Homo sapiens: one gene and its partners. The protein of the gene in region 4 purifies or fractionates together with the protein of the main gene of each other region. This does not show direct contact. Each region holds a gene or a part of one and is shown on either strand. Other genes may lie near its edges. The genes, in order: PRUNE1, IQSEC1, CAMKK2, INSYN2A, RUNDC1, EFL1 and OPA1.

The links.
Region 1: the proteins of INSYN2A (region 4) and PRUNE1 purify together in Homo sapiens (affinity purification with mass spectrometry; 2 studies listed by BioGRID and IntAct, with this or other methods). This does not show direct contact.
Region 2: the proteins of INSYN2A (region 4) and IQSEC1 purify together in Homo sapiens (affinity purification with mass spectrometry; 2 studies listed by BioGRID and IntAct, with this or other methods). This does not show direct contact.
Region 3: the proteins of INSYN2A (region 4) and CAMKK2 purify together in Homo sapiens (affinity purification with mass spectrometry; 2 studies listed by BioGRID and IntAct, with this or other methods). This does not show direct contact.
Region 5: the proteins of INSYN2A (region 4) and RUNDC1 purify together in Homo sapiens (affinity purification with mass spectrometry; 2 studies listed by BioGRID and IntAct, with this or other methods). This does not show direct contact.
Region 6: the proteins of INSYN2A (region 4) and EFL1 purify together in Homo sapiens (affinity purification with mass spectrometry; 2 studies listed by BioGRID and IntAct, with this or other methods). This does not show direct contact.
Region 7: the proteins of INSYN2A (region 4) and OPA1 purify together in Homo sapiens (affinity purification with mass spectrometry; one large-scale study listed by BioGRID and IntAct). This does not show direct contact.

The regions. Positions count from the first base shown.
Region 1 is NC_000001.11:151,011,449-151,014,948, reverse strand, and holds part of PRUNE1 (exopolyphosphatase PRUNE1), read right to left. Parts: intron 1-3,500. UniProt on the Homo sapiens protein: Phosphodiesterase (PDE) that has higher activity toward cAMP than cGMP, as substrate. Plays a role in cell proliferation, migration and differentiation, and acts as a negative regulator of NME1. Plays a role in the regulation of neurogenesis.
Region 2 is NC_000003.12:13,070,630-13,074,806, reverse strand, and holds the start of IQSEC1 (IQ motif and SEC7 domain-containing protein 1), read left to right. Parts: upstream 1-1,377; 5' UTR 1,378-1,792; coding exon 1,793-1,815; intron 1,816-4,177. UniProt on the Homo sapiens protein: Guanine nucleotide exchange factor for ARF1 and ARF6. Guanine nucleotide exchange factor activity is enhanced by lipid binding. Accelerates GTP binding by ARFs of all three classes.
Region 3 is NC_000012.12:121,244,710-121,248,209, reverse strand, and holds part of CAMKK2 (calcium/calmodulin-dependent protein kinase kinase 2), read left to right. Parts: intron 1-2,969; coding exon 2,970-3,070; intron 3,071-3,500. UniProt on the Homo sapiens protein: Calcium/calmodulin-dependent protein kinase belonging to a proposed calcium-triggered signaling cascade involved in a number of cellular processes. Isoform 1, isoform 2 and isoform 3 phosphorylate CAMK1 and CAMK4. Isoform 3 phosphorylates CAMK1D.
Region 4 is NC_000010.11:127,134,930-127,137,591, reverse strand, and holds the end of INSYN2A (inhibitory synaptic factor 2A), read left to right. Parts: 3' UTR 1-2,162; downstream 2,163-2,662. UniProt on the Homo sapiens protein: Component of the protein machinery at the inhibitory synapses, probably acting as a scaffold. Inhibitory synapses dampen neuronal activity through postsynaptic hyperpolarization.
Region 5 is NC_000017.11:42,983,565-42,987,064, forward strand, and holds part of RUNDC1 (RUN domain-containing protein 1), read left to right. Parts: intron 1-2,086; coding exon of another isoform or gene 2,087-2,092; intron 2,093-3,500. UniProt on the Homo sapiens protein: May play a role as p53/TP53 inhibitor and thus may have oncogenic activity.
Region 6 is NC_000015.10:82,147,735-82,151,234, forward strand, and holds part of EFL1 (elongation factor-like GTPase 1), read right to left. Parts: intron 1-3,500. UniProt on the Homo sapiens protein: GTPase involved in the biogenesis of the 60S ribosomal subunit and translational activation of ribosomes.
Region 7 is NC_000003.12:193,610,208-193,613,707, forward strand, and holds part of OPA1 (dynamin-like GTPase OPA1, mitochondrial), read left to right. Parts: intron 1-3,500. UniProt on the Homo sapiens protein: Dynamin-related GTPase that is essential for normal mitochondrial morphology by mediating fusion of the mitochondrial inner membranes, regulating cristae morphology and maintaining respiratory chain function.

The DNA of each region.
Region 1 (3,500 bases), on a different chromosome or scaffold from region 4:
AAATGCTTGGATTACAGGCATGAGCCACCATGCCCAGCCGGATAATTCTTTTTTTGTGGAGGCTGTCCTGTGCATTATAGGATATTTGGCAGGATCCCTAGCCTCTACCCACATGGATGCCAGTAGCACCCTAAGTCGTGACAAACAAAAATGTCTCCAGACTTGCTGAATGTTCCCTGGGGGGCAAAACTGCCCCCAGTTGAGAACTACTGGGTTACAAGAAGGTGAAAATCCATATAGTCTGACTTCTTCAATCAGGGAAGATTTGCTAGACTCAAGAGTTTAGCAAAGTGGGAAGGTTCAGAGGAGTAACACATAGCAAAGAATAGTTATCAACTAATGTAACTTTAAGAAAAAAAGGGAATCTAGGGAAACCTAGAATCATCTTCCCTATACAGGCTATCACTCTTCTCTTCCCCCACTGGAAAGCCACAGCTCAAAAAGGGCAATTTTAGAAGACTTCTGGTGGTATCAATTGCCCCATCCAGTTACGAGATAGGTTTTTGTTTTTAAACCACCCTCGTCGCCATCTCCTACTCCCATCCCTGGAGAGAAATACAGAAGACAGAGGTTATCTGTCCGGGTTCTGCCCAAAGGGCCCCTAAAGAAGTTTGCCCTGAGGTCCTCCCCATGCCTATTTCTCTAAGTCTACTTCAAGAGTTTGGAAGCAGGCCGGGCGCGGTGGCTTACGCCTGTAATCCCAGCACTTTGGGAGGCCGAGGCGGACAGATTACAAGGTCAGGAGATCGAGACTATCCTGGCTAACCTGGTGAAACCCCGTCTCTACTAAAAATACAAAAAATTAGCCAGGCGTGGTGGCGGGTGCCTGTAGTCCCAGCTACTCGGGAGGCTGAGGCAGGAGAATCTTTTGCACCCGGGAGGCGGAGGTTGCAGTGAGCCAAGATCGTGCCACTGCACTCCAGCCTGGGTGACCGAGCGAGACTCTGTCTCAAAAAAAAAAAAAAGTGTGGAAGCAAAGGCCCATTCATACTGAACAGCACTGGGGTAGGGGGATTCTTTACTTTTTTCCAAAGCAGTAAGAATTCTACCCAATACCCCAGTCCTATAGTAACTCCTCTGACTTGTAATTCCTCCTCCTGATACCAGAGACCTCTGTTTCCTGGAGACCAAGAACTGCCCAAATGGCTGTGGACCAAAGTGACAGCAAAGCACTTGAGATAAGAGGCTGCAGAAATAACTTGCTCACTGAAGCAGTTAGGGGGAGCGAGTGTTCTCTAGAGAGGAAACTATATAAACATGAGGCATATGGCCCTGACTGGAGGAAAAACATAAGAGCAGTGGAGAAAAGGCAGAGCAAGCAGGAGAGACCTACTGCAGGGTCCAAAGAGATGCTGGAGAACCTTTCCACGCTTATTTACATCAGTGTTGCTTCACTGCAAGCAGCAGCTGAATCAGGTTCAGTTAGATCCTTACCATGAAGAGAATGCTAAGCAGAAAAGCACAAAGTAGGGACCAAATACAGTGGTATGGTTCTGAAGTCAGGAGAAACCATCTACAGAGGAAGGTGAACAATGAACCCCTTGCGCTCAGCCAAACCTAGACAGTAACCAAAAGGAATGAATACAAAAGGAATACTTTGGGACTTGTAGCAAATCTTGGAACTGGAGTGACCAAGGGAGGCAGCAGCATTCCTCTCCCCTGTCAACACCCACTGTCACCCCGGCCTGACTGGACTATTCACCACCCGCAAACCATGATGTGCACATTCCCAGCTCTGCCCTTTGCACTATTTGTTCTCTGTTTGAATGCAGAACTACTATTTGAAAAGATCACAGACTTTGGGGTTGAATTCCAGCTCTGCTTCTTACTTGTTGCAGGACTTTGGACCCTCTAAGCCTCATTTTCCTCATATAAAAATGAGAATAGGCCGAGCGCGGTGGCTCACACCTATGATCCCAGCACTTTGGGAGGCCAAGGTGGGCGAATCACCTCAGGTCAGGGGTTCGAGACCAGCCTGGCAAGCATGGTGAAACTAAAAAGCACAAAAATTAGCCGGGTGTGGTGGCAGGTGCCTGTAATCTCAGCTACTCCAGAGGCTGAGGCAGGGAGAATTGCTTGAACCCGGGAGGCGGAGGTTGCAGTGAGCCGAGATCCCACCATTGCACTCCAGCCTGGGTGACAGTGTGAGACTCCATCTCAAAAAAACAAACAAAAAAAATGAGAATAATATCGTAACCAATTTCATGATGTTGTTAGGAGGATTAAATGAGATAGTACCATAAGTGCCTACGCTGTAAATAGTAAAGATGTGATCTCCCATCTTCTTTCTTTACTTCTCCCCGTTGTTCAAGTCTACCTAATGTCTTTCTCTGTGAAGCCTTCCTGAACACCCAGCCCAGAGAAATCCTCTTCCTCTAAACCTCCAGCTTCTAGCACTTGTGGCTCTGAGACAGACCTTAACTTCTATCTTAAGGAGCTCCCTGTCTTTTCATGGTCATGTATCCCTGATCCTTAACATGGCTTATGTGGTGGGTGACTATATATTTGATTGTTCAAACTGGGACGCTTATGAGAATGAAAAGGGGTGCTATTAATGATTACACAGGGGAAAACCAAGACTGCCCTGGGCAAACCGTGTGTGGGGCTGCCCAACTTATAAGACATCATTCTCTTCTTTATTTAAGAAAAACATGTGTAACCCCTAATTCCAAGCCCATCCTCCACCAGCTGAAAGCACAAGCCAAACAGCCTCAGTTTTCTGACCATCAGAGAAAGAGTTCAGGGAAAATACAGCTATACTTAGCAGCATGAGGAAATCTAAGCTGCCAATGGAAAAAATACAATCTGAGGGCCACAAGTAAATAAATACAAACTTTTTTTCTTTTTTCTTTTTTTTAAAGACCCACTAGTTGGCCAGGCACGGTGGCTCACGCCTGTAATCCCAGCACTTTGGGAGGCCGAGGTGGGCCGACCACGAGGTCAAGAGATTGAGACCATCCTGGCCAACATGGTGAAACCCCGTTTCTACTAAAAATACAAAAATTAGCTGGGCATGGTGGCACATGCCTGTAGTCCCAGCTACTCGGGAGGCTGAGGCAGGAAAATCACTTGAACCTGGCAGGCGGAGGTTGCAGTGAGCCGAGATCATGCAACTGTACTCCAGCCTGGTGACAGAGCGAGACTTTGTCTCAAAAAAAAAAAAAATTAATTAATTAAAATAAATAAATGAATAAACACCCACTAGTTGAAATGACTCTCTTATCCTGATATGTTCTTTGTGGCCTCAAGAGGAGGGGGCAGGGAGGGGATTCTAGGCCTGGCAAAGTAAACCACTTCCCTTCTAAAGCTGAATATGGTATGATAACTACTCTTCAGAATAGTTAATGGGGGAGAAAAATAAACGAGACAGAAAGCCAGAGAGAGACAAACCCTCTCAGCAGAGAAAACAGGAACAATACTGATGCCAGGACTGCAAATTTCTAAGGAGAGCCAGCTCCTGATTCCTGCCTCATGCCTGAGAACTGCACACACTACATTAT
Region 2 (4,177 bases), on a different chromosome or scaffold from region 4:
GGTGAGTGTGAATCTGGAGAGAATGGAAAGAGGAAGGGAAATGGCCCTGTGGGCTGCCATCCACATCCAGCCGATTCCCAGTCTCAACTACTCCCTCTCTCATTTATTCCTCCCAGTGAGGCAGCTTTCAAGCAGTCAAGAACCAAGACTCTGGAGCCAGACTGCCCGCCAGCTATGTGGCTTGGGCCAGTTGCTGAACCTCTGGCTTTAATGCGCTCCCCCGTGAAGTAGGATGATAGTATTAGGCCTCATTGGGGTTGTCTTGAGGATTACCGTGCACGGAAGAATATTATCTACATGCCTCTGAGATAGGTCTGGGATTCCTGGTTTACAGATGAGGAAGCAGAGAGGATCAGATGAACATCAGACAGGAAGAGAGAAATCTGTGTGGGAAAGGCGGGTGTGGGAGCCGAGGATGGATGTGCGCTTCTCCCCTCCACCTCCCTGTCGCACACTGCACCACGCTGGCCTCCTCTGGGCCAGTCAAATACACCAGGCTGCCTTCCGCCTCAGAGCCTTGACGCCAGCTCCTCCCCTGCTTCTTGCGTCATCCGAGTCTCAGCCACACGTGCCTCACAGAGGGCCTTCCCGACCACCCCGTCTGATGGCAGAAGCCTCCTTCCCGCCTCTCTTGGGGTCCCTGCCTCCCCTCTTCCTGCTCTCTTTTCATCCTGATCCTTATCACCACGTGCAATCCTATATCTGCACACTTACTTCCTGGCTTCCCCTTAGACTGTAAACATCATGAGGGCAGATACTTGCCCGGCACATGGAAGGTCCTCGGGAGAGGAAGAGGCACCATAGCTAGACCAGAAATTCTCCCTAGCCACGTGCAGCCCCCTTTGGGACAGGACTGGCACAAACGAGGACTGCTCTGCCATCCACCGTGCAGCTACTGGCGTGGTGCGCCCTCCTGGAACCCCGTGGTATAGCTGTTATGATCCCTTTCACAGTAGCATAATCAAGACTCCCAGGAGAGACGCGGCTTGCCAAGGTCTCATCGCCCTTCAGTGGCAGAGACAGCCTTGGAGTCGGCCGGCCTCACTCCAGGGCCAGAGCCCCGAGAGCTCCGCGGCTCGCGTGTCTCAGTGCCGAAGGCAGAAAAGCCGCCTTGGAAAGTAGTGTCATCGTAGGCTCCGCGCGGCGCGTGCATTTTAGCAACAGACTTCCAGGTTTCCAGCGCGGGCCAGGAAGGGGCCGGCGCCCCGCGCCCCGCCGGGTGTGTGACTTTGCCGCGAGGGCGCAGCCGAGCGGCCGCGCCTGATGCTGCTGTTGCCATGGCGACCAGCGCCTCGGCGATTGGTCCGGCGCGGCCGCACTACGTTGCTCCTTGGGCGCGGGGGGTGGGGGAGGCTCCGGCGCGCCCGCCCCTTCTCCGGATGCTGCGAGAGCAAACCCGGGGCAGCCTTCTCTCGACCCTCCCCTCCTCATCCCCGCGCCCCGCACCCCGGATGGACGGGAGGGAAAAACCCCAAGGTGGGCCCAGGTAGCAGCGAGGTGGACGCCCCCGCCCAGCCTGGCGACCACGGTTACTCGACGTCCTCGCTCGCTCCTGGGCACGGTGTGAGCGCGCGCTACGTGCCAGGGCCCTCCACAGCCCGCTGCTGGCGCCGCCCCCCGCTCCCGCCCCAGCCTCCCTGGAGGAGCCCGCCACCCCCGGGAATGTGACTCGCCCCGCGATTTAATTTTATTCCCCTCCACTTCTTGCCTGAGCCGCCTGCTCCTCTTGGAAACACGTTGAGCCTCCCCGCTGGAGAGGGAGCCAGAACAGGGAAGAACGGATTCACACAGGATGGCTTGCAGAAGACGCTATTTGTGAGTATATGTGGCAGGTTTCTGCCTGAAGCCAGAGGCCAGAGGGGCCCGGCTGAGCTGGGAGCTGGAGTGAGGGGCATCGTTGGGGGAGGGGCAGGTGGATGTGCAGGTGACTTGCAGAGGGAGCTGGCCACCCAGCAGGGATGCCGGCGCTCGGCCCCTGCAGCGGAGGTGTTTGTTGGTGATGACGATGAGAAAAAGGCTATTAGTCAGCAGGTCTTCAGCAGGCTGTGAAATTCCCAACTGTGAGAGCAGGTATCCCCCCTCCCAGATCCACATTCAGGGTGCCCAGACCGGCTCCTACTGTTTTGGCTTTGGTTTAGCCCATAGCCTGTTTAGGAAGAGAATCTCTGCCCAGCACGCCCATGGCCAGCCCTTCAGCCATGCCTGATAGAAGGTCGCAGGCAGGCTGAGGCAGTGGCCAGGATGCTGCGTCCTCCAAGGGCAGGTGAAGGTCCAGCCCACCGTCCCTAGCACGGAGGCATCAGTGTCCAGCTGTGTGCCCAGGTGTTCTGTGGGCTGGCAGCAGAGCGGCTGTGTGCTGGGCCTCACGCCAGCAGCAGAGGCTGTGAAAGTCTGCACGGGGCGGTGACATCACGGGCCCGGGTATTTATGGAAACCAAAGCCTGCGCTTCGGTTAGCCAGGCTTCCCAGGGGGCAGTGGGGTTCGAATGCCAGCTTCCCTCACAGCTCTCTGGGCGCTGCACTGTGCTGTTCTAGGAGGAGCAACCTTTGCCCTCCTCTGGGACCCTCGGCTGCGGGGGTTGAGGCCCAGCGTCAGGTCTCCACCTGCCTAAACTATTTGCCCAGGACCCACTCATTTGGGGCTGTGCAGTGACCTCAGACCTTAGGAGGTTAGAGAGCATGGCTGAGTCCTCTTGAGCTGGGCTCAGTCGCAAGGCTAGGAAAAGGAGGCCTGGAGCAGTATGTGGGGAGCCTTCTGGGGGCTACCCCAAGGCCTCCCTAATCGATGGAGGCCCCTTACCATGGCAGGGGCCTGTGGAACCCCTGATAGAGTGGCAGCTCCCCGTCACCTCCACTGAGGGAAAGTAAACACACCTCTGCCTCTGCTGCGTCAGCAGTGCCAGGCGGCAACCCACGGGGGATGGCGGTGGCCTCTGGTTCGGGGGATGGCGGTGGCCTCTGGTTTGGGGGATGGCAGTGGCCTCTGGTTTGGGGGATGGCAGTGGCCTCTGGTTCAGGGAATGGCAGTGGCCTCTGGTTCGGGGGATGGCGGCCTCTGGTTTGGGGGATGGCGGTGGCCTCTGGTTCGAGGGATGACGGTGGCCTCTGGTTCGCTGTGATGCTCACTTGCTTTTTTAGTGGAGAAGCTCACAGGTTGGTTTGTCGATGCGAGCAGAGCACACCAAAGTTCTCACTCCCTGTGGCAAGGCCCTCGCTGCATTTTCTGAAACAAATAGTAAATCCTTTCCCAGCGTGGAACTTCCACCCCAGTGGCTGGGAATAGGTCCTCCTGAGACAGCTGTCTCCTCCCTGCCACACCTTTGCCTGGGCCCAGGAGCCTGATGCCAGAGAAATTCTAAACTCTCAGGGCTGTTACATCGGGGAGGGGAGATGTCATGAGGATGAAATGTGACAATTCATATTCAGATTACTTGGCCCAGTGCCTGCTTGCCTCCAATGCTCAGAAATGTCATCCTCACAAAGGCCTTGTCTGGGCAGGCACTAAGAACCCCATTTTAGAGATGGGGAAACTGAGGCTCAGCACAGTTCTACTGGAACCCTGGAGTATACTAGCCTGGGGTGGGGGTTGTAGCCCAGGAGCTATACTGGAATCACTTGAGGAGCAGTTAAAGAAACAAACAAAAAAAAAAAAACAAAAAAAAACTGTGTGGGTCCCACCCCCAGACATTCTGGTTTCTAGGTTTGGGGGAGGGCTCAAGCCTCAGGATCTTTTTCATTTTCCGGATGATTTTAATGTCCAGGTGTGGTTGATGTTCCCGTGATGCAGCTATTCACTGTGGCTGCGTTGCCCAAGCCTATCCAATTGCAGTTTTGCAGGGACAATGTTCTATATGGATTCCAATACTCTTCCCTGGAGAGTCTGCTTCAATCTGTTGGGGGCCCAGCCACCTGCATTTGAACACGTGGCTCTGGTGGATTTGCTGATTCCTGGAATAAGCTCGTCTAGCCTTCCTGCCTAAGAGAGGGGCTGGCCCGAGGGGGCTTAGCGCTCACTGTCTTTCTTTTCTGTGGGTCTTTTCACTCTTCTCCAGCTCTCAGGCTCCCAGTCTGAGCATTGTGACTCCCAGGCCATCCCCGCTCTGCCACCAAACCTATTGGCACCAGAAATACCAAAGATACTTGGAGGGGGTGGCTCTGTTTGTACGCAAGGATCTTG
Region 3 (3,500 bases), on a different chromosome or scaffold from region 4:
CCACCAGGGGTAGGGGCAGGGACTTCCACGCACACACTCAGAAAGTTCTGCCCATCTCCTGAGAGTGAGAATTGCTTAGGAGCAAGTAGGTCCCCTTTTATGGCCTTGAATTTGGATCCTGACCCAGGAAGAAGGAGCCAGAATGTAGAGTCCTCAGGCCTAACCTTGGAGGCTCTGGGAATCGCCACTGACCAAGTCCCTGTCCAGGAGGGCAGTTAGCTCCAAGAGAGAGACCAAGAGTCCCAGGGATCCAGGTTCCAGGCAGCAGGCTTGGGGACAGAGACCAGCAGGTTGTCCCACCACAGCCACCTCGAAAGGCCTGGTTGCAGTTGGCCAGCACTAGTCCCAGTGGGCCGGCGGGCCCCTGGGCTCTGGGAGGGACCCTTGAGACTGGCTGGAAAGGCACAGAAGGTCCAGCTGTGAAGGATTGCCCCTGTAGGAGCCCAGATGCTGCTCCTGCTCCTCCAGCTTTGCACCTCTCTTCTCTGCTTCCCCACACACTTCCTCTCTCCTCCTCCCAAAGCTGAGCCCTGGCTGGGGCATCCATCCACATCTTCCTCCACTCTTTCCCCACCTGGGGCTGTGCAGGACCTTCACTGTTGAAGACCCACCCACACCCACTCACCCTTCCTCAACCACCCCTTGTGCCTGTAGACGAGGAGACAGCTGGCGTCGGACTCTGCACCCACCGTGGGTTACTGTGTTCCAGGCTCAGGAGGTTCTCAGTCCTGAATCAGTTGCCCTCCCTTTCCTTCCTGGGTCTCTGGGACGGGTTCTTGGGAGAAAGCGTCTGGCCCTGGAGGTCTGGAGTAGGCATTCATTATACGGGAAACACTTGTTGAACACCGAGTGGTTTCTCAGGCCTGTGCTGGGAGCAGGGGCTGGGTGGAGTGATGAACAAAACCCCCATGGCCTCTGCCATGCTTGAGAGGCAGATGCTGGTCAAACCAACAAATGTATGTACAGTGCAGTAGAGGGACCACAGGACATGCCCCTAATGGAGGCACACTTGGACCCACTGGGAAGAAGTGGATAGACACCGAGAGGATGGTAGGGTGTTAACTCCGCCGAGAGAGGGCGGACGGGCTAACACACTGGGTGGGGCCACTGAAGCAGGGCAAGGAAGGTGGAGGGAGGGTGTGGCGAGGTTTTACATGTTTACTCCAAGAGCATGGGTTTGAATCAGGGTTTGAACCAGGGCAGCTGGAGCAGGGATGGGCGGGTAGATACTGGGAAGTGGTCTGACTTGGGACAAGATGGCAAGGTCCAGGCCCCCTGCATGTGTTCATCATTTAGCAAACACGGAGCAGCCAGTGTGTGCCAGGCATAGGTGTCAAAGATGAGCTTAGCCCAGTGCCTGCTCTCAGGGGTAGGGGGCTGGGGGGCTGGGGGAGGGGCTCCTGGCCTTATAAGAAAGATGGACCTGGGAAGAATCAGCCTCCTGTGTGATCAGAGGCCAGTGCAGAGAGATGCAAGGGCTGGGGGCTTCACAGAGGAGGAGCTCCTGCTCTGGGTTGACAAGGCCACAGGGGAGGCGGCAGGGTGGGCTCACCTGGGGAGTGACATCTGCTCAGACACAGAGGAAAGAGGGGCTGGCATGTCCCAGTGACTGTAAGAACCTCAGTAGGGGAAGAGGCCTTCATTCTCTCTCTCTTTTTTTTTTGAGATGGAGTTTTGCTCTCGTTGCCCAGGCTGGAGTGCAGTGGTGTGGTCTTGGCTCACTGCAACCTCCGCCTCCCAGGTTCAAGCAATTCTTCTGCCTCAGCCTCCCATGTAGCTGGGATGACAGGTGCCTACCACCATGCCCAGCTAATTTTTGTATTTTTAGTGGAGACGCGGTTTCTCCATGCTGGCCAGGCTGGTCTCAAACTCCTGACCTCAGGTGATCCACCTGCCTCAGCCTCCCAAAGTGCTGGTATTACAAGCATGAGCCACCACGCCCGCCTCCCCCCCCCCGCTCCTTCTTTTAAATTGAGGTAGAATTCACATAACATAAAATTAAAGTGAACAATTCAGTGACATTTGGGACATTCACAGTGACATGCAATTATCTCCTCAATAGTTCTGAACATTTTCATTACTTCACACCCCCGCCCATCAGCAATGACTCTCCATTCACCTCCCCCCAGCCCTGGCACCCACTCACCTGCCCTCTGTGTCTATAGATTTGTGTATTCTGGTGGAATCCTACACTCTGAGGCCTTTCGGGCCTGGCTACTTTGACGTAGGAGAAGGTTTTCAGGGTCCGTTTGTGTTGTAGCATGGATCAGTGCTTCACTCCTTATGGCTGAATCATGTTCCATTGCACAGACAGACCGCTTTGAGTTTATCTTCTTCAGTTGATGGGCATTTGGGTGTTTGCATCTTTTGGTAAATCAGTGTTTCTTAAACACTTATTTTTCTTGTTAGCAGCAAATGCTTAAAAAGTCAGAAGCTCTGTGAATTCCCAAAACAGCTTGAAGGGGCACCGTGCCCTGGTTGGGGTGGGGTGAGGGGCCCAGTGACTCTTATGGGGCCCTCAGGCCATTCCCTTCATGGGAAATGGCAGCCAAGAGCATCACCAAGAATGACTGGTTCACGTCCTTGCTCCAGAACTTTCCGGGGCTCTCTGGCTGACCACAGGCCAAGTTCCAGACCCCTCTGGGTGGGGATGCTGAGTCAGGGAGTGAGGGGACCAGATCTGGGTTTTGGAAGGGATGGGAGGGAGGGAGGTGGAAAGCAGGGAGGCCTGGGAGAGACGCTGAGCAGTGGCTGAGGGTGTGGTGCAGGACAGCACCTTTTCCCAGAGGATTCTTTCGGCGGGGGTTGGTTGCGGGGTGGTGCTGCCCAGTTTCTCTCAAAGTCTGCCATCGGTCACCAGCCCTGGGAGCTGGCAGGGGCTGGGGAGAAGGAAGAGGGAGGATGTTGCCCAGAATCGCCCCCACATGGCCAAGCAGTTGCCTGCCACCTCCTCTTTTCTCCCTCTTCAGATCCTGGTGAAGACCATGATACGTAAACGCTCCTTTGGGAACCCATTCGAGGGCAGCCGGCGGGAGGAACGCTCACTGTCAGCGCCTGGAAACTTGCTCACGTGAGTGGCCGCCTGCCTTCTTGGGTGGGGGAGTGGTGGCTGGAGGCTAGGCTTGGGGCAGCCCTGCCCAGACCACTCTGCACAGGTCCTCCCTGAAGTGGTGCCATCTGGAGAGACTCAGATGAAACCCACCTGGTGCACTGGGACAGTCAGCACCCCAACCTGGGCTCAGCCCACCTCCTTTTGCTGACAGCTAATCCACCTGAAGTTTACCTTTCTCGGGAACTTGCACTGTAGCTGGGGGGCTCTTGGTCAGTCAGAAGAAAAGCACTTTTGTGGCCCGGGACCGTGAGTGCCTGATGGGGAGGTTTGAGGCTCTGTGCTGGGCGAGCAGTGTGGTCTCACTCAGGACCCTGTGTGTCCATGCAGAGAGGTGTCCACTCATCTGCTGTCAACGCCACCCTGGCTCCAGCTCTATGAAGCTGGTGTT
Region 4 (2,662 bases):
CTTACGTAGTCAAAGATGATAAGTAAAAATTTTCCCCCACCCCCGATCTGCAAGTAATACATTATCAACCTGCGAGATGGCAGGCTGTCACCCTGTACACAGCTATAACTCATAATTATTTTCAAGCCTTGATTTTTTTTTTAAATAATGAGAAGAAAAAGCAAGCCTTATGTTTGCGAAGGACTTCATTTTTATGTTTCATTTTGCAAATAAGCAGGGGGCGAGTGCAATTTTCAGCACATCAAATTCCGGAGAAAGCACAATTTTTTCAAGTGGTCGGAGACCATGAATAATCTCTAAAATGTGACTATATGTATATTTGCCTTCATGTGCTATAGCGCTAAGCCAAGTGACCACATCTCAGTGTCACAACGACACCTCAAATTTAGCATCCTCTTCATCTCCAGACTTACGACATGTTTACTGCTCATTTTCCAAATGGCCAGCAGCCAGGAGTCCCCCAAAGTCAGGATATGCCTTTAATCACTGCAAGTAGACAGGGTCAGAGCTATTGGACACTAAGTTTTCTTAGATCTCATTTTTAATCTTTTGGTACCCAAAGGCCAAATAATACATTCTGGCAAGAATCTGAGAACATACATAGAGATACACGATGGATAATCCACCCACCAATAAATCACAGGCATTCTGTGCCATGGCAGACAGTGTTTTTGTGGATCGATCCTCCGAGACACTGTTAGCCATGGTAAGTGCAGCCAGACGTTATGTACAATTCGTTATGCTTTGTATTAATGGTGGAAGCCCTGACCATCTCAAAGAGAAACAGTGCGTTTAGTTTAGCTGCTACCAAGGGACAATGTCGCCTACATTTAACCTATTAGTAAGTTGTACTAAACAACATACTTAGGGGAAAGCTGTGAATCAAATGTTTTTAGGTATTTTTTAAATCAACAGTAACACTTAGAGTTCTCTCTTGATTACACATTGCAATGTAAATCTTAGTTCCTTTATTTTTTCACTCATTTCTTTGCACCTTTGCAAGTATCTTTTTATAGAAATCAAATCCCCTAGTCTATTAATGACTTTGTCTATCAATTTTTTGATTTTCACAATAGGAAGTAGGGATCTTACTTTGCCTTTTTTTTTTTTTTTGTACAACTTAAATTTTGAATAGTTTGTGAGCATACAGGAAAACCTAGTCTTGAAGTTTCTGTCCAGCAGTTTCACATCTAGTGGAGTGCTGACATGCACACCTCATTGACTAGATGCCAAACACACAGTGGCTAACCTTGGTAAAAGGATCTCACCTGCTTTTGTCAGATTGGAGCTGCTTCTTGCCATGTATTTTCCTCCTGACTCAACAGCAAATCTGTTTTAGTTCTAAGTGTTTTGATTCTACAAGGACCTAGTGATCAGTAACCAGATCGGGCCTTGAAAAAAAAATGAAGAGTATGTCGTGTAAACATTCTTCGGGGGCCAAACAACACTGCAGTTGTATGCTTTAATTTAAAACACACATGTGCACACACACATCCTCTGCGGAAACACTATATGAAGTTCGAATCCCTGAATATCAATAAAAGGAACTGAGAAATATTTTGGTGCAAGAACAATGAGGAAGTTGATCCTGTAACATGAAGGAAGTGTAACTGTTTCACGTAGACTAAATATTTAAAAATGGGTTTCATGTTTTTTATACTGTTTTTAACTAAAGTTATAAAAATGTTTCCAACAAGTTCTCTCTCCTTATGTTTTAAGAATCCCAACTATCTCAGTAAATTGAAATAAGGGTATTAGCAGTTTTCTAATTAGTAACACAAATCTGTCTAAACAAGAGGACATCCTAGTACACAAAATAATGTCACTGTTTCACACCAGTCTAGACCAAAAAAAAATAAAATTAAAATGTTCAGAGTCAAAAAGGAACTTCTGAAGATAAATTAATTCATCCCTAAAAATTAAAGTGTGTTCAAAATAGAAAAACTATTGTCAAAATCATTTCATAGTTTAATTGCAACACGTCACTAACAGATGGTGATTCTTCTCTTGGAAAGATTCAAGTAAAAACGCTGATACAAAAGCAAGGTAAAACGCACAGGGTTCCCTTATGTAGATGTACACATGGCATTGCATATAGAGATTAAATTATTATACTTGTCGTTAAGTTCTTTATTAATTTTTAAATAAAAAAATCAAAGATGTTTTATGTGGCTATTAAACTTATTTCATGGCCTCAAAAATTGGGGAACATAAAAGTAATCTAAGAAAATAATAATAAAGGAAGAATGTTTGGGCCGATAGGCATTTCATCCGGTCTGCAGAAGACAAGAGCATCGTAAGGCCTGGGCCTGACCCACCAGCCAGAGCTGGCCTGGCTTGGGGAGGGAAGGGACTGACGCTTGCCCACCTATGCACCCTGGCATGGAGTTTCACCACCGGAACACATGGTGGCATTTTAGGATGCACACAGGCTCATAGCAGGAGGTATATGAGGTTTAATTCTTAACCTCAGAAGAAATGGCTAAATACATTGAGTGTTGCCACAGTACACTGTGGCATGTAAATCTTGCCTCCATGGCCCAGGGGAGGTAGCTTCTCTCTAGATCTTCCATTGAGCACATCCCCAGCCTCAAGGGATCAGCCGCCTCCTTCCTTTCTTCTTCCCCTCCCTAGTGGGAGATAGGCTGAGCGCCTACCTCTC
Region 5 (3,500 bases), on a different chromosome or scaffold from region 4:
GTTTCACCATATTGCCCAGGCTGGTCTTGAACTCCTGGGCTCAAGCAAGCCACCCACCTTGGCCACCCAAAGTGCTGGATTACAGGCATGAACCACTGTACCCCGCCAATTTTTTTTTTTTTCTTGAGACAGAGTCTCACTCTGTCGCCCAGGCTGGAATGCAGTGGCACCATCTTGGCTCACAGCAACCTCCGCCTCCTGGGTTCAAGCGATTCTCCTGCCTCAGCTTCCCAAGTAGCTGGGACTACAGGTGCCCGTCACCACGCCTGGCTAATTTTTGTATTTTTAGTAGAGATGGGGTTTTGCCATGTCGGCCAGGCTGGTCTCGAACTCCTGGCCTCGAACGCCTGACCTCATAATCTGTCCGACTCGGCCTCCCAAAGTGCTGGGATTATAGGTGTGAGCCACCGTGCCCGGCCCTAAATTTTTATTTTCCACTCTGTTGCCCAGGCTGGTGTGCAGCAGCATGATCACAACTCACTGCATCCTCAACCTCCTGGGCTCAATCCATCCTCCCAGCTCAGCCTCCCAAGTAGCTGGGACCACAGGCGCACACTACCATGACTAGCTAATTAAAAAATATATTTTTTCTGTAGAGGTGGGGCTCTCCCTATGTTGCTCAGCTGGTCTCTGACTCCTGGGCTCAAGCCACCCTCCCACCTTAGCCTCCCTAAGTGCTGGGATTACAGGCATGAGCCACTGCACCTGGCCCCCAGTTTTTTTTTTTTTTTTTTGAGACAGAGTCTGGCCCTGTCACCCAGGCTGGAGTGCAGTAGCATGATCTCAGCTCACTGCAACCTCCACCTCCTAGGTTCAAGCTGTTCTGCTGCCTCAGCCTCCCTAGTAGCTGGGACTGCAGGCATGTGCCACTATCCCCGGCTAAATTTTGTATTTTGAGTAGAGACAGGGTTTTGCCATGTTGGCCAGGCTGGTCTCGAACTCCTGACCTCAAGTGATCCACCCACCTCAACCCCAAATATTTTAAACCAATATTTTCTCTTATCTTACTTCATACTGGAAATGATTTATGTTATTTCCTGCTTTGCACCAGAGCTCATTGTTCTCTCTTGTTTGCCCACACTCCAGCAAATAGCATATCGTAGCTACCATGGCAAGTGACAGAGTTCAACAGACTTGGTCATGAAAATGGAATCAAAATTTATGGCTGATTTCTTTCTTCCCTGACATAAAGTTGGGTAACAGTGAGAACAAAAACAAAAGACTTTTCCACAGTTCTTTCTCCTTAGGCTGGTTAGACAACTTTCTCCACTCAGAGTTCATTATTTGGAATTTGTCATTCTTTTCTTTTTCTTTTTCTTTCTTTCTTTTTTTTTTTTTTTTTTTTTTTGGACACAGAGTCTTGCTGTGACACCCAGGCTGGAGTGCAATGCTGCGGTCTTGGCTCACTCCAACCTCCGCCTCCTGGGTTCAAGCCATTCTCCTGCCTCAGCCTCCCAAGTAGCTAGGATTACAGGCACGTGCCACCACACTGGGCTAGTTTTTGTAGAGACGGGGTTCCACCATGTTGGCCAGGCTGGTCTCGAACTCCTGACCTCAGGTGATCTGCCTGCTTTGGCCTCCCAAAGTGCTGGGATTACAGGCATGAGCCACTGCGTTCGGCCATACTTTCCTTAATTCAGTTCAGTAACATACAACAAATGCATGTTGAGAACTTATCTTGTGCCAGACACTGTGCCTGGCATTTGTGGTTCAAAGTCAAAACCTTTGTCCTTAAGGAGTTCATAGACTAGAAGAGACAGAATCCTAAACAAATAATGTGATATGAGCTAGACTAGAAGTGTGAACAACCTCTAGAGGAAATGTTTAGTTATGCCTGGGGAAATCAGGAAGCCTCTTAAAGGAGAACTAGGCCTTCACCAAATGGGGAAGTGGGATAGGGTTCTAACAGTATGCAACTGCGCTCTGAAAGGATTACAGAGGGACTGCCCTGAGAAAAGGCTTGCTTTCATGTTGAGCAAAGTTAAAGCAAGAGGATTGCATTTTAAATACTTAAACAAAAAGTTAATTTGTTGTTTTCTTTTTTTTTTTTTTTTCATTTCTTCTCTCTCATTACTTACTTCTTCAGGGCTTGGTAAGTACCGTTTTAAGGTTAAATGTAATACGCTGTAGACTTCTAGTTTAAGACGCAGCCTTGCCCCTACAAATGATTTGCTGGTTTTGCTTTTTGTTTTTGAGACTCAAGAAAGACAAGGAAGAACCAGTGTTTGAGAATACGTTGACAAGACTTTACCACCCTGAAGCATTTTTATTAGTTGAAATGCAGAAACTACTGGTGGCCAACAGTTGAAAAAGGAGTCACTAGTCAGCAAAACTTACAGATACTTTTTTTTAAAAACGTTGTTACCTTCACATCCCCATTATGTGGCTTTTGGTTTTTTTTCACTGGCCTAGGCACTTGCCTTTTACTCTTTTGTTTTTGGTTTTGGTTTTTTGAGACAGAGTCTTGCCCTATTGCCCAGGCTGGAGTGCAGTGGTGAAAACAAAGCTCAATGCAGCCTCAACCTCCTAGACTCAAGCCATCATCTTGTCCCAGCCTCTTGTGTGACTGGGACCACCATGCCACCACGCCTGGCTAATTTTTTTTTTCTTTGAGACAGGGTCTTGTGAAGCCTTGACCTCTTGTGCTTAAGCAATCCTCCCGCCTCGGCCACTCAAGTAGCTGGGACTACAGGCATGCACCACCATGCCCAGCTAATTTTTAAAAATTTTTTTGTGGAGATGAAGTCTCACTGTGTTGCCCAGGGTGGTCTCGAACTCCTGGGCTCAAGTGATTCTTTTGCCTTGGCCTCCCAGAGTGCTGCAGTTACAGGCGTGAGACACCACTCCTGGTGCGTTTGATTCTTTTGATTTTTCAGAAGTGGTCTATCGTACATCAAAGGGACTTTGGTGAACCTTAGGAAAGCTGGTTATGAGTTTTTTTCTTTTTTTTTGAGACGGAGTCTCGCTCTGTCACCAAGGCTGGAGTGCAGTGGCGCGATCTCTGCTCACTGCAAGCTCCGCCTCCCGGGTTCACGCCATCCTCCTGCTTCAGCCTCCCAAGTAGCTGGGACTACAGGCGCCCGCCACCACACCCGGCTAATTTTTTTTTTGTATTTTTAGTAGAGACGGGGTTTTACTGTGTTAGCCAGGATGGTCAATCTCCTGACCTCGTGATCCACCCGCCTCGGCCTCCCAAAGTGCTGGGATTACAGGCGTGAGCTACCGGGCCCGGCCAGCTGGTTATGAGTTTTAAAGCCTCTCTCCACACCCTTACCCCAGATTCTTTTGCAAAATTTGGCTGCACAGAGTAATCAGGAGTTGTGTTATGGTAACTGGCTGTGGAGAATGGCATGTCTTAATTCCTGGGAGGCTATCTTGGCTGAGATAGATTGTCTCTACCCTAACTAGACCTTTGGGGGAAAAAAGGCAGTCTTAACAAAAAGCCTCATTGTATTAATATCCTATTTCCAATGAGGGACAGATAGTTTCTTAAAGAAAAC
Region 6 (3,500 bases), on a different chromosome or scaffold from region 4:
AAAATTCCTTTGCAGAGTAATGAGAGTCTAAAAGAAATCAATCATGAATGATCTCAATGACAGAAGAAGGAAGAAAGCCCCTCCTCAACCCCTATTTTAAGAGGACATGCACAGTAGAAGGAAGAAGAGGATACCAACTCAGGTGGATCAGTAGCATGTCCAAGATGCTCAAAATCAAAACAAGCTGAGTGTATGTACCAAAGTAAAAGAGCTAAAGACAGTGCAAAGAGCTTTTTCCAATACTGGTTGAATATCTCTTCTCCAAAATGAGTGGGACCAGAAGTGTTTTACATTTTTTATTTTTTTAGATTTTGGCATATTTGTATTATATACTGTTTGAGCATCCCAAATTAAAAAATAAAGGCTGGGCAGGGTGGGATTACGCCTGTAATCCCAGCACTTTGGGAGGCTGAGGCGGATGGATCATGAGGTCAGGGGTTCGAGACCAACCTGGCCAACATAGTGAAATGCCGTCTCTACTAAAAATATAAAAATTAGCCAGGTGTGGTGGCATGCGCCTGTAGTCCCAGCTATTCGGAAGGCTGAGGTGGGAGAATTGCTTGAACCCAGGAGGTGGAGGTTGCAGTGAGCTGAGACCATGCCATTGCACTCCAGCCTAGGTGACAGAGTGAGAATCCATCTCAAAAAAAAAAAAAAAAAAGTTTCAAATTTTAGATGATTTGGGATTTTGGATTTTCAGATTTGGGATACTCAACCTATACTTTCAAAATAAGGAGACATGTCTTGTCTACAACTTATAGAAACTAGTATCATGTTACAGAGGATAGCAAGAAAATAGGGGTTCGCAATACCTATGTTACCTATCTTTCTCTTCAGTGAGGAGAATGGTGAACAAACTATAGCAAGTGGAACAAGTTGAAGTGGGAGAACACTGAAGTTCACGGTAGCTCAGCAGTTGATGACTAAGTGCTTGGCCTTCTTAAATGAGTTCAAGTCTCCAGGACCAGAATTATATCTCACCATAATAAGAGAATTTGCCCTTTTGAGAAATTATGAATAGTAAGGTAGGTGCCAGACTATAGGAAAAAGGTAAATAATGACTAAACTTTTTGAGGATATAAACACTGCGTTCCATAAATTGCAGACTAGAAAGCCATATGCTAATTTTCTGTAGAATTTTAAGGAAACACTATAGACATTTGTACATGTTTATACAAGTATGAGGTAAATCTTGGGAGACAACATGGACTTTCTAATACAAAATACTAACCTAAGCTTTTTTTTTTTCTAACATGATTGGTAAGCTGATAATTGGGGGACTGTTATAGATGTAAAGGACCGTAACTTCATCGAAACATTTGATTTTCTACCTGTTGAGTTTTATTTCTCATCAGACAAGGACACATGAAAAAAATGAATAAGAAATCAATGTGTTAAGATGGTGGTGATGTGACTTCTTTTTCTTGCCATTAAAATTTTTCTCCTGTTTACTGTTGTAATGCTAATTATGTTATATAACTTAAGAAAAAAATTAAGTGTATAGACTCAGTACTCATAAGAAAAAAATTAAGTGTATAGACTCAGTACTCATACACAAATAAATATAGGAGTTCATACAACTACATGATTTCTACAGTCTAGTCAATTACCAAAAATTTGGATTCTGCTTTTTGGGGAACAGAGTGGGAAAACATAACTTTGTTTTGAAAAAAAAGAAATAGGGTTGATCTTGACTTCTCATATGAATTAATGAGAAGACGTAATTGTTAAATTTCATTAAAAGAAGAATGTTGTATTTCATGTAGGAGGTAACAGTGTAGACACAGACATGTTCTCTACTGGTTGGAGGGTATGTGAGGTGCTGTGTTCAAATATAGTTGCTTTAAGAGGGATGCTGACCAAATAAATTATGTCCAAAAGACAGCAACTGAAATGGTGAAAGGATACAGAAATCCTAACAGAAAAACAGGTGAAGGATTTGGAGTTTTTCTCCTGGATATAAAACTAGAAAACTAATGATTTATTTCAAATACATAAAAGAGTTGTTGCATGGAAGAGAGATGAATGGTGGTACAGATGATTGGAAACTAGCAGGTGACAGACATTTTGCTCAATATAGAAAAAAACACCATTAAATCACGAAGCTGGCTGTGCACTGGCCATCAATAGAAGTATTCAAATAGTGGTGGTATAAGCATTTGTCGGGGTAGGAGAGGCTGGAGAAAAGCTCTTAGGTCTTCTTCAAAGATTTGAGGGATTAAGATTTGATTTTAACTCTTACTTCCGCCTTAAGAAAGTTCTCAATGAAAATGAAAAATAGCATCTGAGAATAGTCTAGATTGGTGTTTCCCAAACAAATCTACAAATTCCATGGCTGTTAATAGGCATGCTATATTCAAATAAGGTTGAAAAGCACTGTATATGACATGCTGTATTTGGAGATTTGATTCACAATGCATACTGGCCTTAACCCAGCTATTTTTCAAATGCTGCTAATGACGCTCAGTCTCACAAAAACCTTAATGTGATGGAAGCCTAAATTTCTTTTGGGAAAAAAAACAAACAAACTTAGATTTCTGCTTTCAGGAATTAATCAGCAAAAGAACCTTCCTAAAAAGAATGTAATTAACCACATATTGACTCAAAGGGCCTCAGGGTTAGAGGAAACTTAATAATTTGGCCGATTCTCTCATCCAGGGCTCAATCCTCCTTTATATTCTCTTCACTACTGAAACAGTTCCATGATCTTGAGAGAATAAGAGAACTACTGTGTGCCAGGTGCTGTTCTGGGCACTGTATTTAAAAAAATTGTGTTATTTTAATCTTCACAATCTGTATGAATTATTATCCCCTTTCTTTACCTATGTAAAGAAACTAAGTCTCAGTGAACTAATACCAGTGAAAAGTCCAAAGAGCTACTAAGTGCCAGGGCTTCATGTCTCCTGGGATCTTAAAGGTTGCTTCTCCCAAAGAGAGAAAAATCAGGAATAGGATTTGATATAATGGTTAGCAGTGAATAAAGCCCCAAATAATTTTCTTTCTCAGAAAGAACCCAGAATTCACAAAAGCCCTTTTGTGTTATGAGTACAAGAATGTTGCCTTATTCTTTGATCATTTTCAGAACAACTTTGGTTACCCAGACTGATATGGTTATTTGCTTGAGATAAAATATGGCACAGGTTTGGATGGTAACACATATGAGCAGTTTAAACCTCATTTAGCAGACCTCTCATTACGGAAAGGATTCTATTTGTTGCAAAAGAAAAGATCTTTAGTAGTCATGTTTTTCCCCTCTCAAGATTTTAATACTTAAGATATCTGGCTTTCAAAGATCTTAGTTTGTTAGTAAATCAGAAGATGGTACAGCTTCTGCAAAACATACTAAACGAGTTTAAGATTTTTGGGTCTGCCAGGTGCAGTGGCTCACGCCTGTAATCCCAGAACTTTGGGAGGCCAAAGTGGGTGGATCACTTGAACTCAGGAGTTCGAGACCAACCTGGGCAACGTTGCGAAACTCAGTCTCTACAAAAAACACAAAA
Region 7 (3,500 bases), on a different chromosome or scaffold from region 4:
GTTTTTGGTGTGGATGTCCTTTCTGTTTGTTAGTTTTCCTTCTAACAGTCAGGACCCTCAGCTGCAGGTCTATTGGAGTTTGCTGGAGGTCCACTCCAGACCATGTTTGCCTGGGTATCAGCAGCGGAGGCTGCAGAACAACGAATATTGGTGAACAGCAGATGTTGCTGCCTGATCGTTCCTCTGGAAGTTTTGTCTCAGAGGGGTACCCGGCCATGTGAGGTGTCAGTCTGCCCCTACTGGGGGGTGCCTCCCAGTTAGGCTATTCGGGGGTCAGGGACCCACTTGAGGAGGCAGTCTGTCTGTTCTCAGATCTCAAGCTGTGTGCTGGGAGAACCACTGCTCTCTTCCAAGCTGTCAGACAGGGACATTTAAGTCTGCAGAGGTTTCTGCTGCCTTTTGTTCGGCTATGCCCTGCCTGCAGAGGTGGAGTCTACAGAGGAAGGCAGGCCTCCTTGAGCTGCAGTGGGCTCCACCCAGTTCGAGCTTCCCAGCTGCTTTTTTTACCTGCTCAAGCCTCCGCAATGGCGGGCACCCCTCCCCCAGCCTCGCTGCCACCTTGCAGTTTGATCTCAGACTGCTGTGCTAGCAATGAGCGAGGCTCCATGGGCATAGGACCCGCTGAGCCAGGCGCGGGATATAGTCTCCTGGTGTGCTGTTTGCTAAGACCATCGGAAAAGCGCAGTATTAGGGTGGGAGTGACCCAATTTTCCAGGTGCTGTCTGTCACCCCTTTCCTTGGCTAGGAAAGGGAATTCCCTGACCCCTTGTGCTTCCTGGGTGAGGCGATGCCTCGCCCTGCTTTGGCTCATGCTCGGTGCGCTGCACCCACTGTCCTGCACCCACTGTCTGACAATCCCCAGTGAGATGAACCCAGTACCTCAGTTGGAAATGCAGAAATCACCCGTTTTCTGCGTCGCTCAAGCTGGGAGCTGTAGACTGGAGCTGTTCCTATTTGGCCATCTTGGAACCGCCCGATTGTGATTTAAAATGAGAACGAGATGGTCCCTTTGGTTCCTGGTCCCTGTAACTGTTGCAATTGAAGGGGCATAAGCTTATTAGCCTTTTGAGGTTTTTTTTGCTCTAGAGTCTTCTCAAAATGCTTAGCTAGGTTGGGCACGATGGCTCACGCCTGTAATCCCAGCACTTTGGAAGGCCAAGGTGGGAGGATCACGAGGTCAGGAGATCAAGACCATCCTGGCTAAGATGGTGAAATCCCATCTCTACTAAAAATACACAGATTAGCTGGGCATGGTGGCACACGCCTGTAGTCGCAGCTACTCGGGAGGCTGAGGCAAGAGAATTGCTTGAACCTGGGAGGCAGAGGTTGCAGTGAGCCGAGATTGCGCCACTACACTCTAGCCTGGGTGACAGAGCAAGACTCCACCTCAAAAAAAAAAAAAAAAAAAAAAAAAGTTCAGCTAAGGCCACCAATTCAGTCACATCTCTAACTTCCCATTGCAACTTATGTTTTTTAGTTAAACTGCTAAGTTCAGGATGGAGTCCATTTATAAGTAAAGCAGTTAATGCTGTTTCAGCCCCTGCAGGGAATACTCCTTGCTGTACTTTGAGCCCAGGATGTTTCACAAATATTTCTAAGCGACTTCTGTAATCTGAAACTGGTTCATCTTTTCTTTTCTTTTTTTTTTGCTTACAAGATTGTATGATGGACCAATTTTTTGTGGAAAAATTTTAGGAACTGAATGTTAAAAGGTTTTCAGCGATTTTTCTAGCTATTTTTGGTCCTTCTTGTGAGGAGCTCTTAGAGGGCCCTTTAAAATGTCCTCCTCAGGTTTGTCCCATTCTGCTGCTGCCATCCATTTCTGAGCTTCACCAGCCCCCAGTATCATATGAATAAATTGGTAAATTCATGAAGTCCTGGATCGTAAGCTCCTATTAGGATTCTAAATTCCTCAGTAAATTTTTGAGACTTTTCCCTTGGACCAGGGAAGTCCTTCACAATGGGGCTAAGCTCAGTTTTAGACCATGGAGTGAAAGTAGTTACAGCAGGCAGGCCTGGCTGATATAAGGTCTCACTTTGTAAGACATCTGTCTAACTTCCTTTTTTTTTTTTTTTTTTTTTTAAATCATCTTCAGGGTGAAAGTGTAATTTAACAAAAAGTTTAGTGGACTCAGAGTATGTAGGTAGAGATGGACAAAGAAGGAACAGTCCGAGTTAGATCAGTCAAAGTACAGTCCTCTTTCTTCATGTCCTTGGTCTGTTGCTTAAGCTTTTCATTTGGTTTTTGCAAAGAATCTTTTAAGGAGGCACTTTTTGATTCACTTAGTCTTTTGGAGGCCTTTGCGTATCCATGAGACAATACATCCCACTGTATTTGTGGGGGCTTTGATCCCCTTTTTCTAATATGCCTTGCAAACAATTTTATCCAAATTAAAACTTCTCCATTGTGGCCATTTTAATTCTAAGTTTTCTTTAGTGAGGTTAACCCATTTTACTGAAAATGCACATGTTCTGGGCCCATAATTTTTATACGTAAAATTAGCTGGAGTCCCTGAAGATGGAGTCCCAGACTCCTTGGATTGAGATGATCCCATTATTAAATAAGGTACTTATCAGAGGTCTGAGGCCTCTAACTGAATCCAATCCAGTTAATTATCAAATCCAATTTGATCTTGGATCCAGTCCAGGCTAAGTATTGCTTGAGTAAACTCGGAGAGCTCAAAACACAAGTTAGTGGAGCTCGGAATCTGAGAGAAAACTCACCCATGACCTCCAGTTACAATCAAGAGACCAGTGAGAGCAACGGCCTCAGTGGGTACCTCACCAGGTCACCTGGTGTTCCAGGGGGTTGCCAGAGTTTTTCTTCAAATCCCACTTCTGACACCAGATCTGTTAAAAGAAAACTTCAGACAAGTTAAATTTGATGGAGTTTAATTAAGCAAGGAAAATAAACACTTTGCAAATCAGGCAGCCTCCAGAATTGAATGCAGTTTGAACACTTAGCAGTCTATTAGTGCTTGAAGTATGGCCACTGGGATTGGCCAACACTCAGCTATTATTACAGATGCATACTACTCAGGTTTTCCATTTTGTCTGCCTATTGTGCTAGGTTATGGTTTGTCCACAAGAACACAAATATAGAAGTATGGAGTCCTTCTCAGGCCATATTTAGTTTGCTTTAACAATACTTAAAAAAAAAATTTGTAAAATAAGGATACTTAACCTTACTCGGTGTTTCTGAGAGTTAACATTTATATAGTTATGCTGTAGTGAAAACAGCTAGCGTAATGTCTGGTATGTATAGGAACACAAGAGATACCGCTTTTCCCATATCCCCATACCATTCTTCACAGCATTGCTCCTGTCTTCCTTGATTCCTCCTCCTCCTTCTTTGTTTTTTTTTTGTTTGTTTGTTTGTTTTTTTTTGGAGGTGGAGTCTCACTCTGTTGCCCAGGCTGGAGTGCAGTGGTGTGATCTCAGCTTACTGCAACCTCTGCCTCCTGGGTTCAAGTGATTCTCCTGCCTCAGCCTCCTGAATA